2 separate regions of the Homo sapiens genome follow, and region 2 is linked to region 1. Evidence: fine-mapped expression QTL. Tissue or cell type: aorta. Region 1 holds a variant in brackets; the other region holds the start of a gene. All regions are shown on one strand. Distances are from middle to middle.

Region 1 (8,103 bases):
GATCAGTCAGACAGGAGGGGGCAATCTAAAAAGGCTGAAGACTGATAGGCATTAGGTATTTTTCTTAGACCCCATACATGCCCAGCTATAAAACAAGGCTTCCCCCTGAAAGTAGCCAGCAAAAAGAATCGCTAACCACTGACCTGTCACTCTCTCAGCCACACCTTTTGGATGTCGCAGAGCAGGTGGGAAGGCGCTTTGGCGCTCATCATCCTGCATCCACGCAGGTTCATCAAGGCTGCCTGACAAAATCAGGTTTAAAAAAAGGCAGGTGCATCTATCACATGCTTAAATATTATTCTTCGGCTGTGACTTCATCCCATTTTGGTTATTCTGGTAAAAGAGCTTTTAAGGGTTCACTTTCATAAGCAATAGAGTGGGTGGTTCAGTTGTGGAGGTTATGAATATACACCCACTGGGCTAATAGAGAAAGTGCTCACTTTCTCTATTAAAAAGTGTTGGAAGAGTGGGTACTTGAACCTAGAAACAAGATTTCCAGTGATAACATAACAGAAGAAAAAATGTCAGCATCTTGAGAAAGCCGGAAGTGCAGGGAATGTGCCATGGAAAGCAAGAAGACTGAGACCAGGCCAGGTACGGTGGCTCACGCCTGTAATCCCAGCATTTTGGGAGGCTGAGGTGGGTGAATCACCTGAGGTCAGGAGTTCGAGACCACCCTGGCCAACATGGTGAAACCCCATCTCTACTAAAAATACAAAATATTAGCCAGTCGTGGTGGTGGGCACCTGTAATTCCAGCTAAATGAGAGGCTGAGGCAGGAGAATAGCTTGAACCCGGGAGGCAGAGGTTGCAGTGAGCCGAGATCACACCATTGCACTCGAGCCTGGGCAACAAGAGCGAAACTCTCTCTCAAAAAAAATAAAAAGACTGAGACCAAAGGAAACGTCATCTCAGTAAAATTGTTCCACGGTGTGGGAGAGGTTTTTTTTTTAAGACAATCTAAATTAAAATGTGATTCTTTTAACTGTTTCTCATTAAGTTAATTGACAGCATATTATAAGATGATGCTTGACTGTGTCATCTGTGTTGGTAAAAATTCACATATTCGAATTGGCCACAAGCCTTTCTGAGGGTTTGTCTTTGGGAGAATGGCGGTGCTCCTGAAATGCCAGGTGGCCTTCTGCTGGGGCGTGTACCATGCTTCTGCGTTATTGGTAAACAAGGCATTGCATCTTACACACACCTGGTTTTCTGAGCTGTGCTGCTCCACCAGCATTTGGGGCATTACAATCATAAGCACACCCTGTATTAGTCTGTTCTCACACTGCTATAAATAAATAAATACCTGAGACTGGGTAATTTATAAAGAAAAAAGGTTTAATTGGTTCTTGGTTCTGCAGGCTTTACAGGAAGCAGAGTAGCTTCTGCTTCTGGGGAGGCCTCAGAAAGCTTCCAATCATGGCAGAAGGTGAAGGAGAAGCAGGCACATCACGCGGCCGGAGCAGGAGCAAGAGAGAGAAGGAAAAGGGAGGTGCCACACACTTTTAAACGACCAGATCTCAACTCACTATCCCAAGAATAGCACCAAGGTGATGGTGCTAAACCATTCAAGAGAAACTGCCCCCATGATCCAATCGCCTCCTACCAGGTCCTACCTCCAACATTGGGAATTATAATTCTACATGAGACTTGGTGGGGACACAGATCCAAACCACGTCACACTCTGACCCAGAAGGCTCAGTGTGTTTCAGCTTTGGATTCCCAAGTAGAGATCCAGTGTTTTCACTTCCAGAATGCTTTTATACTTGATTACACACTGTTTCCATGCCTTTGCTTGACTTCCTATCATAACGATAGCCCTTTATCTGGTATTCACGTATCAAGCTTCCCCTTTGCTTTGCCAGTACATTTGCAGCGTCTTCAATCCCTGTTGAGGTTGGTCTCTTTCTCGTCCTCTCTCTCTCCCCCTTCCTCTCTTTGTTTTTATCCTTCTGTACTCCCCAGTCCAACCTTGTCCAACTCTCCTCCCAGGCTGCTGTTGAGCTGTTTGTAAGCTCACGTGTCTGAAACTGCCCAAAGTCTCTTTAGAGCTCCCTATAAGGAAAACAAATGTATCAACTGACATACTTGAATTGTGTCATGGTATATGTATTTTTTAAGTGGTCACAATTCCCAAGAAAGAAATTACTTTATAATAAAGGTAGCAGAATCTAGGACATCAGAATAGCATTGCGTGCAATGGCACAGTGATGTCAACTCCACCCACCCATTTCCTAGGAGCTAAGCAGTCACTAGGAGCTGCTTGTATTTCCGAGTCCTAGCCTTATGAAGTAGGGAAAGAAGCAACAAAGCCATTTCCTGCCCCATTTTCTTAGCCCTTCCACAGGCAGCTGCAGCAGCACACCCCACATCCACTGAACCTGTTGTTGCTTGGGCTGCAGGGCCAGGTCTTAATCTGCTCTCTACACCTGAGACCCAGTGCAGGGTCCAGCACCTGTGAGGATGGAGCACAGGAGGGAACAGCCCAGAAGCCTGGCTTCACCCTTAGATGATCCTGCCTTCGTTACCTATGTGAATCTGAGAAATATATTTAACCTCTGATGTGCTAATTTTCTTGTCCATAAAATGGAATAATGAGACCTACCTTGTAGGATTAAATGGTAGGATTCAGCTCATGATGTCTTCTCTAAGAGGTCTTCCTTGACCAGCCTGCCTTTAAAAGCAACAGTCCCCTGAACCCTCCTACTCTGTTTCTACCTTCATAGCATTCCCTAACACTGGGCTTTAGAGGAACATAATCATTTGGGTCTTTTTTCTGTGTCTCCTTGCAATTTTCAAGCAAGCAGGAGGTTTGTCCAGTTTGGTCCCTCTTATACTCCCAATGTCTGGAAGATAGTAGGTGCTGAATAAATACATGTGTCTGATTGAAGCCTGCAACATGATGGCTGGCTGGCTGGCTGGCTGGATGGATGGGTGGCCGGCTGGCTGGCTGGATGGATGGACGGGTGGCTGGCTGGATGGATGGACAGGTGGCTGGCTGGCTGGATGGATGGATGGATGGATGGATGGATGGATGGATGGATGGATGGATGGATGGGTGGCTGGCTGGCTGGATGGATGGATGGATGGACGGGTGGATGGACGGGTGGCTGGCTGGACGGATGGATGGACGGGTGGCTGGGTGGCTGGCTGGATGGACGAGTGGATGGATGGATGAATGGATAGATGGGTATATAAATGGATGATGGAAGGAAGTAGGAAGGGAAGGAGGGAGGAAAAAGAGGGAAAGAAGGATGGTTGGGAGGGAGATAGAGTTAGGCAAGCAACAAATACATAGGGTGTGTGCAAAAACACAAACAATTGTTGAATTGTTACTATTCTAGATGCCAGTTTTTCCAAACTGCTTTGATCAATCAGATCCCAGTACTTTGATCAAAAGTGCTGCCAAACAGGATTAAATTAAGCACAAAGTGCAGGTTCCACACTGAGGCTCTCCCTCCCCATCCTTCCCTGCTCTGACAGATAGACGAAAGAGAAAAAGAAGGCAGAATGCGGACAAATCAGGTCCCTAATAGGAGCTGAGTGTGTCGGTGGTGTCATCCTACTGTGAGCAAGGCAGATGTGGAACAGATGGAAGGAAAGGGCATGTGATGTGAGGAGCTAGGGACCTCATCTTTCTCCATGACAGAGAATTGTGTCCAGTCTGGGCTAATGCCCCTGAAAAAAGAGATTGCAGAGGCTTCTCTAACATGGCTTATAAAAGAAATGAGAAAAGGAGAGGTGCAAGGCTGGCTCATTGCAGAGATTGGAGCGCTGAGCACACTGTTCACATCAAATGATGGCAAGGTGGTGTGGCACGTGTGTGTTGAATGAGATGATCATGTCTGCTAGTAGCTGATGAGAAGGGATCAGGTGCAGGCTAACGAAGGGGGATGTTTTTAGTAAGAAGAACATCTTCTGTTCCCTGGGACGAGGTATCTTAAATAAATCCGTTGTCACCTTGGAAAGCAAAGCCTCCCCAGGGTGGAGAGCAGAGAAGGGCAGGAGTCAGAGTGAGGCTCTGGAGTGTCGGCATCCTGGCCATCAGAAGCGATGTGAGATAAAGTGCCAAACAGGACACCAATCAGGGAGAGAAAAGGGACCACGCCGCAGGGCATGGTTTGTTCTAAAGAATGTGGCATGTTTTCTTGACTTGCTCAATAGTCTTCAACAGACATCACTATGTCCAGGATTCAGGAGTCCTCCAGAACTTTGGCTGCAAATGCTGATTATATGTGCTCTCTC[C/T]GTGGCTGGAAGATGTGCTAAAAATGGCCATTTCTGAGCTCTCTGGCTGCCATGACCCTCTTTGCTGGGAACCGTCATGTTGTACATAGGGATTACCAGGGTTTATGACTCCATGGCCTCTGAGAGAAATCTCTGCCTTGCAAATAAAATAGAAGGTATTAAAAGAAGGTAGTACTTTCTCTTATAGGGAGCTTTATGGGACTAAAAATATCATAGAAGATATCTTCATTGCTCCTTTGGAGCCTGCCCTGGCTTGCATTTCCTCACCGGAATTGTGTGGGATGTTGTTAAAGAGAGCAAACTTCCCCTTCTCTGCAGCCAGCCAGCCAGCCAGCCAGCCAGCCAGCCAGCCAGCCAGCCACCTCCTTTCTGCCCTGGATCAGATCTCATTCCACAGCCAGGCCTCATTTCCTGAGAGGCCACACATGCCACAAGCCCAGAGAGCAGACCTAAGGAAGAGTAAGCATTGGAACATGTGCTCTGCCAGAGGCCGAGTCAAGAGAGGATGCGAGCTGCTGACACCCTAGGCTTCCCCTGGCCAGCTCCCACCATGAGTCGGGACAGACACTGGGTGTGATTGCTTTGAGCACGTCTCCCCGTAACCATTTGAGAGGCCTACAGCCATGAAAAAAAAAAAATCACCTGCAGGAGATGAAAATGCAGTTCTGCTTCTGTTTCAGGTGCTAAACCTGCCCCTGGGATCTGCTTTGAGAGAGTCAATTCTGCAGGTGATCCTTATGGCAACTGTGGCAAAGTCTCGAAGAGTTCCTTTGCCAAATGCGAGATGAGGTATGGAATCCAGACATCCTGGCAAAGTCTTTGCTCTGACCTTCCCACATTGCATAGGGTTGGTTCCAAATGGTTTCTCCTTGGGAATTGTTTGTTCTTACCCTTCCAGAGATGCTAAATGTGGAAAAATCCAGTGTCAAGGAGGTGCCAGCCGGCCAGTCATTGGTACCAATGCCGTTTCCATAGAAACAAACATCCCCCTGCAGCAAGGAGGCCGGATTCTGTGCCGGGGGACCCACGTGTACTTGGGCGATGACATGCCGGACCCAGGGCTTGTGCTTGCAGGCACAAAGTGTGCAGATGGAAAAGTAAGACCCAAATGTTTGCTTGGATCATAAATGTAAGTCTGGAACAGGGCCCATTGAAAAACAGCAAGAACTGGGTTACAAGGTTTGTTGGTTTTCCTAAATCTACTTCTTCTCAGATGCACCTAGAAGAAAAAGTCAATAAATCCTAGATCCTGGTCTGACTATTAAAATGCAGATTGGGGAAAAATCAAGCCTGTCTTCTTAGGCCTTGAGTGTTAATAAGTCATTTCTACACTCCAGGTGGCATGAGGACTTCTAGCCAGGAAATTACTTTGGAAAGAAATACAATCGCATATTCTATTGGTTTTGGATATGTGGCTTGGTTTTTAGCACAGAGTTCTTGGGGGCTTGTCCTCACCTGAACAGAATGGGAAATCAGATGTATTTTTAGAACCCTGTAGAGAGAAGAATAGGAGAGGGAAAGGAGTGGAAGAAACTCAAAACCAGAGGGGAGTCCTTTCAGAGAACAGGGAGAAAGATACATGGAGATATTTTGAGGTTTAGAAATAAAGTCAAACTTTTTTTTTTTTTGGAAGAAAAAAAGAATTTGAGATTTTCATGCTCTGCCATACTGATTTTTTTTTTTTCACCAAACTTTCTCATCAGACTAAATGACAGCAAGCGAATACAATGTTTTAAGAAAAGGATGAAACAACCCCCAAATGCTTCTTAGGACTCCATTTTCAACATGGTCTTGAAATCACTCACTAACATGAGGTCACACAGGCAAGAAAAGACAGAGGCAGAGACAGAATCCTGAGGACAGGTGTTGCCTCCACTCTCCTGTCTTTGGCCCCACACACCCTGAGCCACAAATCCTTTTTCCTTGAGAAATAGGATCGTACATGAATCTTCTTATACATTCTGAATGTCTCCTTACCCACATTTGCTCATATTCAGGCCTTGACATTAAAATGACATCTGATATTTTTAGGCTCAAATCATATTTTGTCTTTTAACTTTTAGGTTCAGGGGTACATGTGCAGGTTTGTTATACAGGTAAACTTGTGTCATGGGGGCTTGTGGTACAGATTATTTTGTCACTCAGATACTAAGCCTAGTACCCATTAGTTATTCTTCCTGATCCTCTCCCTCATTCACCCTCTACTCTCTGATAGGCCCAGTGTGTTTTGTTCCCCTGTATGTGCCTATGTGTTCTCATCATTTAGCTCCTACTTATAAGTGAGAACATGTGGTAGTTGGTTTTCTGTTCCTGAATTAATTTGCTTATGAAAACAGCCTCCAGTTCCATCCATGTTCCTGCAAAGGACATGATCTCATTCTTTTTTATGGCTGCATAGTATTCCATGGTGTATATGTACCACATTTTCTTTATCCAGTCTATCATTGATGGACGTTTAGTTTGAGTCCATGTCTTTGCTATTGTGAGTAGTGCTGCAATGAACATATGAGTGCATGTGTCTTTATGATAGAATGATTTATATTTCTTTGGGTATTACCCAGTAGTGGGTTGGCTGGGTCAAATGGTAATTTCTGTTTTAGGCCTTTGAGGAACGACTGCACTGTTTTCCACAATGGTTGAACTAATTTACACTCCACCAGCAGTATATAAGTGTTCCTTTTTCTCCACAACCTTGCCAGCATCTGTTGTTTTTTGACTTTTTAATAACAGCCATTCTGACTGACACCTTTTTTTTAAACTGTAGCCTGAACAGCCAGGGCCAGGTGCATCTGGACATTCCAATTCCAAGGGCTCAATTTATCATCAAATTTGTTTTCCACGTTCAAGATGAAATGTGCTTTGATCTCAGAACCTTGGTTCTCTGAGGGCTCAGGGATCCGCAGTGATTCCCATGAGGGTCCTGCTGTGTTCACTGTAATCCAGGACAGGTTCTTTTATCAGCTGGAATGTGACCATCCCCTTGGCCAGGATTCGCACCCACCGAGTGGGAATCCCTCAGTGCTGCTTGGGCCAGCGCTTCTCCCAAAGGCTATGCCTCTTGCCCTTATATGAGCTGTTGGGGTCGGATGGTGACCTCCTCAATAGGAAGGTTCTACTTGATTAAAAATTCTTCTGCCATTTGAACGTTAGACTCTTTTTCCTTTGACTCCACGGATTTGTAAAATCTTATAGGAGATAAAGGGCTGCATCCCTTGAGTCTGGAGTATATTATGCACATTTGAAATGAGGCTGAGTTCTTTCAGCCAGCCCAGTATCACTTAGGAAATGCCTACCACTACAACAGCTTGATAAATTCAAGGAGCCGTCTGTTTTCCTCTGCTGAGCCTCGTTGCTGATGGTTTATGTCATTGATGATACTACTTGTCAGTCAGTATCTGGAAAAAGTTCCCATATTTCAACCTCTCCCTTAAAAGACTCTTCAACCCTGGATTCTTGGAGTCTCCATCTATGTCTATCCAGGCCCTGGGATAAGGAGTAATCTGTCTCGCCCTCCCCTATATCTTTTTTTTTTTTTTTTTTTTTTTTTTGAGACGGAATCTCTCTCTGTCGCCAGACTGGAGTGCAGTAGCATGATCTCGGCTCACTGCAACCTCCAACTCCCTGGTTCAAGCGATTCTCCTGCCTCGGCCTCCCAAGAAGCTGGAATTACAGGCACGTGCCACCACACCCAGCTAATTTTTGTATTTTCAGTAGAGACAGGGTTTCACCATGTTTTCCAGGAGAGTCTCGATCTCCTGACCTCGTGTTCTGCCTGCCTCGGCCTCCCAAAGTGCTGGTATTACAGGAGTGAGCAACCGTGCCCAACCTCGCCCTCTCCTGTATCTTTTAATGGAAGAA
Region 2 (8,103 bases), 340 kb before region 1:
CCACCGCACCCGGCCAGCCCTATTTCTTAAATGAAGTATCCTCAAATGTTTGGTCATTCTTGTCATAGTTCATGTTTGTTTTTGAGATTCCCCTTTTCCTTTCGCTGTGTGCTGGCTTTGCACTCAGCCTGCCCCCGCTGATGGCGGGAGAGATAAGCACCTGGTCTAGGAGGCTGTCTCAGCAGCTGCTGCTGCTCCAGGAGGTGTCTGTTTCTCTTAGTACTGTCAGTCACTTGGGGTACGTAAAATGGAATCTGGGGGTGTGTAGGGAGGGGCATAATAAGTTTCCCATCACAGTACAGTCATGAGTCACCAAATGACATTTTGGTCAATCACGTGGTACGCACTTGAGCACTTGTAAGGATGCTCCCATAAAATTATAATGGAGCTTCTCTATCCGGGTGTACCATTTTTTAAAATCTTTTCCACTGTATTTTTACTGTACCTTTCTGCCTTTTTGCTGTACCATTCCCTACAGTATTCAGTGGAGTCATGTGCCATACAGGTTCGTAGCCTAGGAGCAACAGGTTATACCATAAAACCTAGATGTGTAGTAGGCGGTACCACCTAGATGTGTGAGTACACTCTGTGATGTTCACACAGCGACAAAACTGCCTAATGATGCATTTCTTAGAATGTATCTTTGTTAAGTGAAGTATGACTGTCACTTGGTTGGAGAAGTTGACTGGTCAGTGGGTAGGTGACATAGATGAATATAGATGGGGTGACCTTTCCTGTCTCTTGTGACACAGCGCATCCCCGAGTTCCTTGTCCCCAGCCCCAGGAGCATTCTTTCTTTGGCGTTTAGTGCTACTTAAGTGCTAATTCTGTGCAATAATGAAAGCATCAGAGACAAGAGGGTTTAATCTGCCCAGAAGAGGTTCACTGGGGGCAGGTTTCTGAGGAGGTGAAGGCATGGATTCTTGAAGTGAGAGATCTAGGAAAAGAAAAATGGACTACATGTTATTATAATACGCCGAGAGGAGCAGGAGTTTTCATCTCTCCAAGAGATAGAATAAAAATGATTTCCAAGAATCTTAATCTTGGGGTGATCACATTTGTTTACGTTTGGAGTAAGCCTTGGGAACTGTGCTTGGAGAGAGGAAAGCTGTTCTGCAAGCCTGTGTCTGAAGTTCTGTCAATAGGTCACTCTGCAAGGAGGCCGGCTCTTCACTTACTGCAGAAATTAGCAGTGGCTGCCTGTAAATTCCTGGCTTAGGAAAGTTTGTCTCCGTTTTTCATCTGCTTGTACTCAGAGCAGATTGAGCTTACATGAGCTTGGGTAAGAAATAAGTGCCCTGTTCGTTGTGAATGCCCAGGCTGTTAAACGAAAATAGCACACAGGAAACAGTATTGCAAAGGTCAATTCTTCCAGAAAGGAAGGGACAACCAGCCATCTATCTGAAATTTTCGTGTGTAGATCCTGGCCTCTGACCCCACACCATTACCTAACAATCCAGTATTGAATGTGATGTCGGCTTCCATTTCCTGTGAATGAGGAGGCAGAATTTCCATCCAAAGACAGACCATCTGCCAGACGCAGGATTTGCTCTTTGCCTTAGCTGGCTGTTATTGATGTCTATGAAGGCTTTGTGGAGACAGTGTCAGCCCAGGCCGCTTGCTTCACAGAGATGGTGAATTACAGGGTTGAAATCCAGAGCTTGCAGCCAGGATTTTATTTTTCTTCATTTTTCCTCTGCAATGGCTGTTTTCTTTCGTTCAGTCAGAAACAAATCAAGGACAGTCTTGGGGCACATTTAGTTCTTTGGAGGAAGCTTTGCAACATCCAGGTTTAAAAGAAATTGGACTTTTACAGTCAACATTAACAATTGAATATGAAAGAGCGAAAATAAATTGATCATTAAGAGAAAATGTATACAAGGCCCCCAGCCCAGTGCACAGCACATGTTAGGTCCATTGTGAATAAACCATTTAACCAGTCAGAAGGATCCGAGAGGCCAGTGGCTGGGCTCATCTGCAAGCAAATCTGGCCCTTTGAGCTGGAAGAAAACAATTTTTAATTCTCTTGCGTCGATGTGTCTGAAGTTCTATGGGCCACAAGTATCAGGATCACCTAAGTACTTGCTAAAACTTGTCCTTCCCAGACCTTTCTAATGAGAATCTCCAGTGCAAACGCCAGAGGAATTGAATTCTTAACAGACATCCCAGGGATCAGGTGGGTTGGGAGACATTGCATTATTTCACCTGGTGCTCACAACCACCTGGGAGGTTTGTATTTTACCTTCACTTAACAGCTGCTAAAACTGAAGGTTGGAACTCAGCCTTAAAGAAACAGGCTTTATCTTTAACAGATCTGAGGTTGGGCTCTGACCTACTTCACTGTGTGGTGGTGGGAAAGCTACATCTCTATGCTGCAGTTTCCTCATCTGTATATTCAGGACTTAAAAAATGAAATAATGCAGGTGAAAGACGTTAGCACAATACTCCGATTATACGAGGTATGTAATGAATTATGAAGTAGTAAATAGTCTGTTTTCGTGCTGCTGATAAAGACATACACAAGACTGGGTAAAATTATACAGGAAAAACGTTTAATGGACCTACATTTCCACATGGCTAGGGCAGAAGACATGAAGGGGCAAGTCATGTCTTACATGGATGGTAGCAGGCAGAAAGTGAGAGAGAGCTTGTGGAGGGGAACTCCTCTTTTTAAAACCATCAGATCTTTTGAGACTTATCCACTACCATGAGAACAGCACAGGAAAGACCTGCCCCCATGATTCAATTACCTCCCACCAGGTCCCTCCCACAACACATGGGAATTCAAGATGAGATTTGGGTGGGGACACAGCCAAACCATATCAGTAAACAAGCCTAATCATTATTAACTAGGTTAAGTAACTAGCTCACACTGTCCAATAATGATGATTTATCAGTTTGATCAGAAAGAAAAGTCTTTGAAGGCAAGAGGCTTTCTCGTTTAGTTTCCCAAGTTCTAACATAGGGTTGCTCATGTAGATTGACTGAATGAATGAACAAAAGAAGTACACTGCAACGCTGGTTGGTAGTACGGTTAGATATGACACAGGGCTTGAACCAGGCCTGGTTTCCAGATCTGGTACTGAGATATGGCAGCATTGGGAAGGGGGCTGGAGAGCCTGTGCTTCCCACTAAGGTTTTTTAAAAAGAAAGTCCTGCACCTTGTTAGGAGGATCGACCTGGGTTTTGGGAACACTGCAAAACCTGCCGTGGGAGGGAACTCCTGAGAAAACTCCTCTGCAGTGGGAAGAGATGGTATGGAAGGCAGCTTCCTCAAATGCTGGATAACCGCCTCCTAGGAGTGGGTGCTCCGTCAGGAATCGGTGCGAGGTCGCAGGACCAGGATGGAATTTCTGCAGGTGGTCCTAGGTCTGAGCAGCACAGTAGAATCACCTGAGGCTTTGAAAACTATTGAGCTCCACGCATTGTGGGAAACTGAGTTAACTGGTGTCTGGGGCTGGCAATGTCTTTAACTCTTACTATTCTAATAAGTCCCCAAGGTTGGGAATCATGGTAACCCGCAGGGTGGGCATCAGCCATCCTCCATAGCTCCAGCCATTTCTGTCTGTGCGGGCCCCCTCGCTGCTGCTTTTCATGGTCTCCCTGAGGGCCGAGCGAGGCTGAAGAGGTGGGGTCAGCCCGGAACAAGGATGAGAAGGCAAGGCGCACCATTCTTTCATTGGTGTTTCTCCAAACACCCTGGGCTCCCCTGGCCTCACAGCCTGGAGAGTCTCATTCTGAAAGCGTAGGAGGGCGCCCGGGAATCTTTTTAACAAGCCAACCCAGGTGCTTCTTACAATCAGGAAAGTTTGGGGAACGTCACTGTACACCCTTTTCTGGGTCCAGGTCATGGAATGGAAACGTGAGCCAATCTATCAACGTAAAACCTAACACTGTTGATCAAAAGTAACGCCCAGGTGTCTTGTGCCTGCGAGTCCAAGCTTGTTTCTCGGGCGAGAGATGCCCCTTTGGGCGCTTAGGGCCGGGCGGGGTCGCGCGCCGGGCTGTGGGCCGCGGTGGAGACCTGACCCGCACTCCGAGGGTTCCCAGAGAGCCGGGGAGCGAGTAGCAGAGTCATCGTTTCCAGCTTCAGCCTGAAAAGCTGGACCGTGCCGCCGCATGTGCGCTTGGCAGCCGGGCGCCCCGGGCCCTGCGGCCACATCATCCTGGGGCGGGGACGTGTGCGCTCCGGGCGCCCGGACGCCACTGAGCCACGTCTGAGCCGCCCACCCTCGGGGGTGAGCGAGCCGCGGCTCGGGGCGGGACCCTGGCGGGGGGACCCGAGCGGTCTCTAGGACCCGCGGGACGCCGCCAACTGGCGGGGGTGCGGGGGAGACAATAATTTGTTCCGCGGTAATAAGAACGGTGACTGCTGGCCGTGGATCCATTTCACAGGCCTGCCTTCTCTCACTAACGCTCTTCCTAGTCCCCGGGCCAACTCGGACAGTTTGCTCATTTATTGCAACGGTCAAGGCTGGCTTGTGCCAGAACGGCGCGCGCGCGCGCACGCACGCACACACACGGGGGGAAACTTTTTTAAAAATGAAAGGCTAGAAGAGCTCAGCGGCGGCGCGGGCGCTGCGCGAGGGCTCCGGAGCTGACTCGCCGAGGCAGGAAATCCCTCCGGTCGCGACGCCCGGCCCCGGCTCGGCGCCCGCGTGGGATGGTGCAGCGCTCGCCGCCGGGCCCGAGAGCTGCTGCACTGAAGGCCGGCGACGATGGCAGCGCGCCCGCTGCCCGTGTCCCCCGCCCGCGCCCTCCTGCTCGCCCTGGCCGGTGCTCTGCTCGCGCCCTGCGAGGCCCGAGGTAAGTCGCCGAACTAGGGCGGCTCGCTGCCCGCCCCGCCGAGGGCACCGCACGCTGCGCCTGGGCGCGCCGAGGTCCAGGGCTGCCCCGAGGGGCGACGCGCCCCGGCGCATCTCCGGAGCCCCGGGGCTTGCGCTTCCAGCGCGGCGAGACCGACCCCCCCCCCCCAGGTGCCAATTCCTTGGGGAAGGGCGACACTTGGCCCGCAGCCCCACAGGAGCCAGTACCTGCCCCGGAGGGCACAGCCTCGGGACCGCTCCCCCGTCCTCACCCTCTTGGGTGACATTTGCAGATGTCTCTGTATCTTGACATTTACACGTGTCACTCGGGACGATGCGTGTCGGGTCCTCTTGCTGGCCCTATCCCGCAGTGAATATCCCCACCCCAGGCTCCGGGCCAGCCCTTCACCAGGTTTCCTTTCCAGCCCCGCCTCCCCCGCTAACACACTTAGGGGGGCGCGCAGCGGCCCCGCAGGTGAGGCAGCCCCCTCCTCCGCAGGTGTGCCTGCTGCTCTCCACAGCAGGCTCTATTTTCATAAACTGACTCTCTTACCTACTTCTTTAGTTTCCTCTCTGCCCCTCTTCCTGGCTTCCAGGTCACTCCCTAGCTGTCAGTCGCAGGCAAACTTTAGCGGAATTCTCCCTCCTTCCTCCACTCAGTTTCTCCGCCGTAAATAATCGCCCCCATCAACTTGGTGCACAGCGAGAACTTACTTAGTTTAACGTACTTAGTTTTACAGACTTAGGTTTTCCCGAGTTGTAGCCCCTTAAAATCGGGCACCTGTGGCTCCCGTTTGCACAGTGAGGACTCACCCAGCAGGTGCCTTTTTAAAAATCCGGCAACTTCCCCGGGTCTCCGCCGCCGCCGCCTTCTTTCTGCCGCCCGGGGCGCTGTCGGTCCACCGATGAACGACTTCCCTTGGCCGCAAGCTCTCAAGTTCTGTGATTCTATATAACAGGCATTTATTTTTCAACAACTGGCCTAAATCACGAACCGTTACCACTTTATGATACGTTTTATTTTGCGATTGCCACTGCTGCCCTCCGCCCCCACCGCGTCTACTGTAATGTGGCTAAAACCCAGTTCTTGTTAAAAGCCACACTGCGAAGACCAATTCGGGGATAAATGATTAAATACAAAGATTGCACAAAGCAATGAGAAAGTCAAGAAAGAATCCTGCTGAGGGTTTAAAGAACTCTACGACCTGTAGTGAATTGTGCTTTGAAAGACTTTTAAACAAATTGGTCCTTTTGAATGTTTATTAAGAAAGAACTTTTTAAAAAACGGAAAGTGTCTCAAAGTGTGCCTGACATGGTCTTTAACTTGGCACGTGCTTTGTACACATAAAGAGAAGTCTACTGAGCAGGGACAAATTTTTTTTTTGGAAGAAAATGTTTATTAAATCCAGCTAATAATGGGAAATTATTTCTTGTGTGTGTGGGCGGGGGAGGACTTTTACTATTTTATGAGTTCAGCTTTGGTAGAGAGAGTGTTTCCTTAAGACAGATATGACCCAAAATAGAAAACCAGGGAGGCCTAAGCACTTTGAATGGGTTACCTATTGTGATATATTCCAGGATTCACTGCTTGTTTACCCTTAGATTCTCAGTATCAAGTCTTCAATCAATCAGTGCCCCAAATCATACCATTGAGGCCGTATAAAACGCCAAACATATAATGAAACATTTCTTTGCATTGGCAAGAGAAAAGGAGGAATTACTACCTGTTGAGTCTGAGCATATTCTGAGTTTCTCCCTAGCCTTGTCTGTACCCTGAGCCCTGGCACAGTTGCCTACTTGGTACTTTCTGGGGCAACTCGGCCTAACAAGTCCAAAACAGAACCCTAGATCCCAGACTCTCTAGTTGCAAATCATTCCCTCCCCAGCCTTCCTGAACCCAGTAACAACCTCCTCTGCCTTCTCCACATGCCTTGTGCTGACATGCAGGAAGTCATCCCTGTGTCCCTCTTTTTACTCCGTAAGCCACCAACCTCCTAAGTATATTCCCACCTACCCACTTCCTTACATCCCGAAGTGTGCCTTTCCCAGTCCAGGCCACATTATAGGAAAAATCTCTTCTGCAGAAGCCTCTTATCCCTCTTACCCAACGGGCCTACTGGCTTTTCACCTTATCCCTGCATGGTATATTTTCCTCCACAATAGAGCCAAAGTTATTATTTTCAAACATGAGTTAGAGCATTCAAGTTTCCTGTCTAAAACTCCCCAGTGGCTCTCTAGCACCCTTAGGAAAGAAAATCCAAACCTCAGCATGACCTAATTCCTGTTTTCCTTTCTGATCTCCTTTCTTACCATTCTCCCTTTGCTCACCCTACTCCAGACACACTGCCTTCTCTTCTTTTCAACTACCCAATATAGTAGTGCCATCATTAAAAAAAAATTCAATGTTTGCACTAAGAAGACTTTGCAAATACTTTTCACTGTTTTGCCGTGCAGTGTTTTATGGCATTTCATCCCTCTTGTAACTTTTTGCTTTTCCTAGAGTTAATGATTGCCTTGTCTTGATTTTTGTTTGCTTTATTTTCTGTGCACCAAGCTGTGATATTGTGATATAATAAGAAATATGTCTCTGCCCCTGGTTCCTGGCACAGAACTCCTAAAATCCTTGGAATCTCTGGGGTATTAAGAGTGTCTTTTGTATGCTAATGAGCTTGTTAAGGCATGATTAGAGTTGGGACTTTTAGTGCCACCTCCCTTGCAACCTCCAGGGAGGGGAGACGGATTGAAGGTTGACTTGATCGCCAATGGTGTAATTAATCATGGCTGTGTAATTAGGCCTCCATAAACCCCCCAAAGGACAAGGTTTGTAGAATTTCCAGATTGCTGAGCAAATCAAAGTTCCTGGAGGGTGGCGTATCTAGAGAGGACACAGAAGCTCTGTATCCCTTTCCACATTCTCTGCCCTTTGCATCTCTTCCAACTGTTTTTCATCTGTGTCCCTAATTACATCCTTCATTAATATAATAAACTGGTAAATATAAGCAAGTGTTTTCTGTGGTTCTGTGAGCTTACCTAGCAAATTAACTGAACCTGAGAAGGGGGTTGTGGACCCCCAACTTATAGCTAGTTGGTCAGAAGTATAGGTGTGACAACCTACTACTTGTGATTGGCATCTGACATTGGGGGGAAGTCTTGTGGGACTGAGCCCTTAACCTGTGTGATCTGATGCTTTCTCCAGGTAGATAGAGTCAGAATAGAGTTAAATTGTAGGACTCCCAGTTGATCTCTACTGAAGAACTGGTGGTTGGTGGGGAGAAACTCCCACACATTTGGGTGACCA

Which allele goes with the higher level. Alleles are on the strand shown, and positions count from the first base shown. SD is a standard deviation of normalised expression in the study named.
In carriers of allele C in region 1, the expression in aorta of the gene that starts at base 4,387 in region 2 tends to be higher than with T alone (small effect, 0.26 SD a copy in GTEx).

The links. PIP is the estimated chance that this variant, and not a neighbour inherited with it, causes the effect.
Region 2: ADAM12 starts here. The variant in region 1 is fine-mapped to the expression of ADAM12 in aorta (GTEx, PIP above 0.99).

What each region holds. Positions count from the first base shown.
Region 1 is chr10:126,046,492-126,054,594 of GRCh38, reverse strand. ADAM12 (ADAM metallopeptidase domain 12) reads left to right here. Exons shown (of 23, transcript NM_001288973.2): 15 at 4,926-5,034; 16 at 5,144-5,342. Among named protein-coding and RNA genes, the nearest start is that of FANK1-AS1, 77 kb to the right of the region's middle. RefSeq lists an enhancer at 4,797-5,297. The variant C/T (reference allele first, on the strand shown) is at 4,246.
Region 2 is chr10:126,384,761-126,392,863 of GRCh38, reverse strand. ADAM12 (ADAM metallopeptidase domain 12) reads left to right here and starts at 4,387. Exons shown (of 23, transcript NM_001288973.2): 1 at 4,387-4,806. The coding sequence starts at 4,719.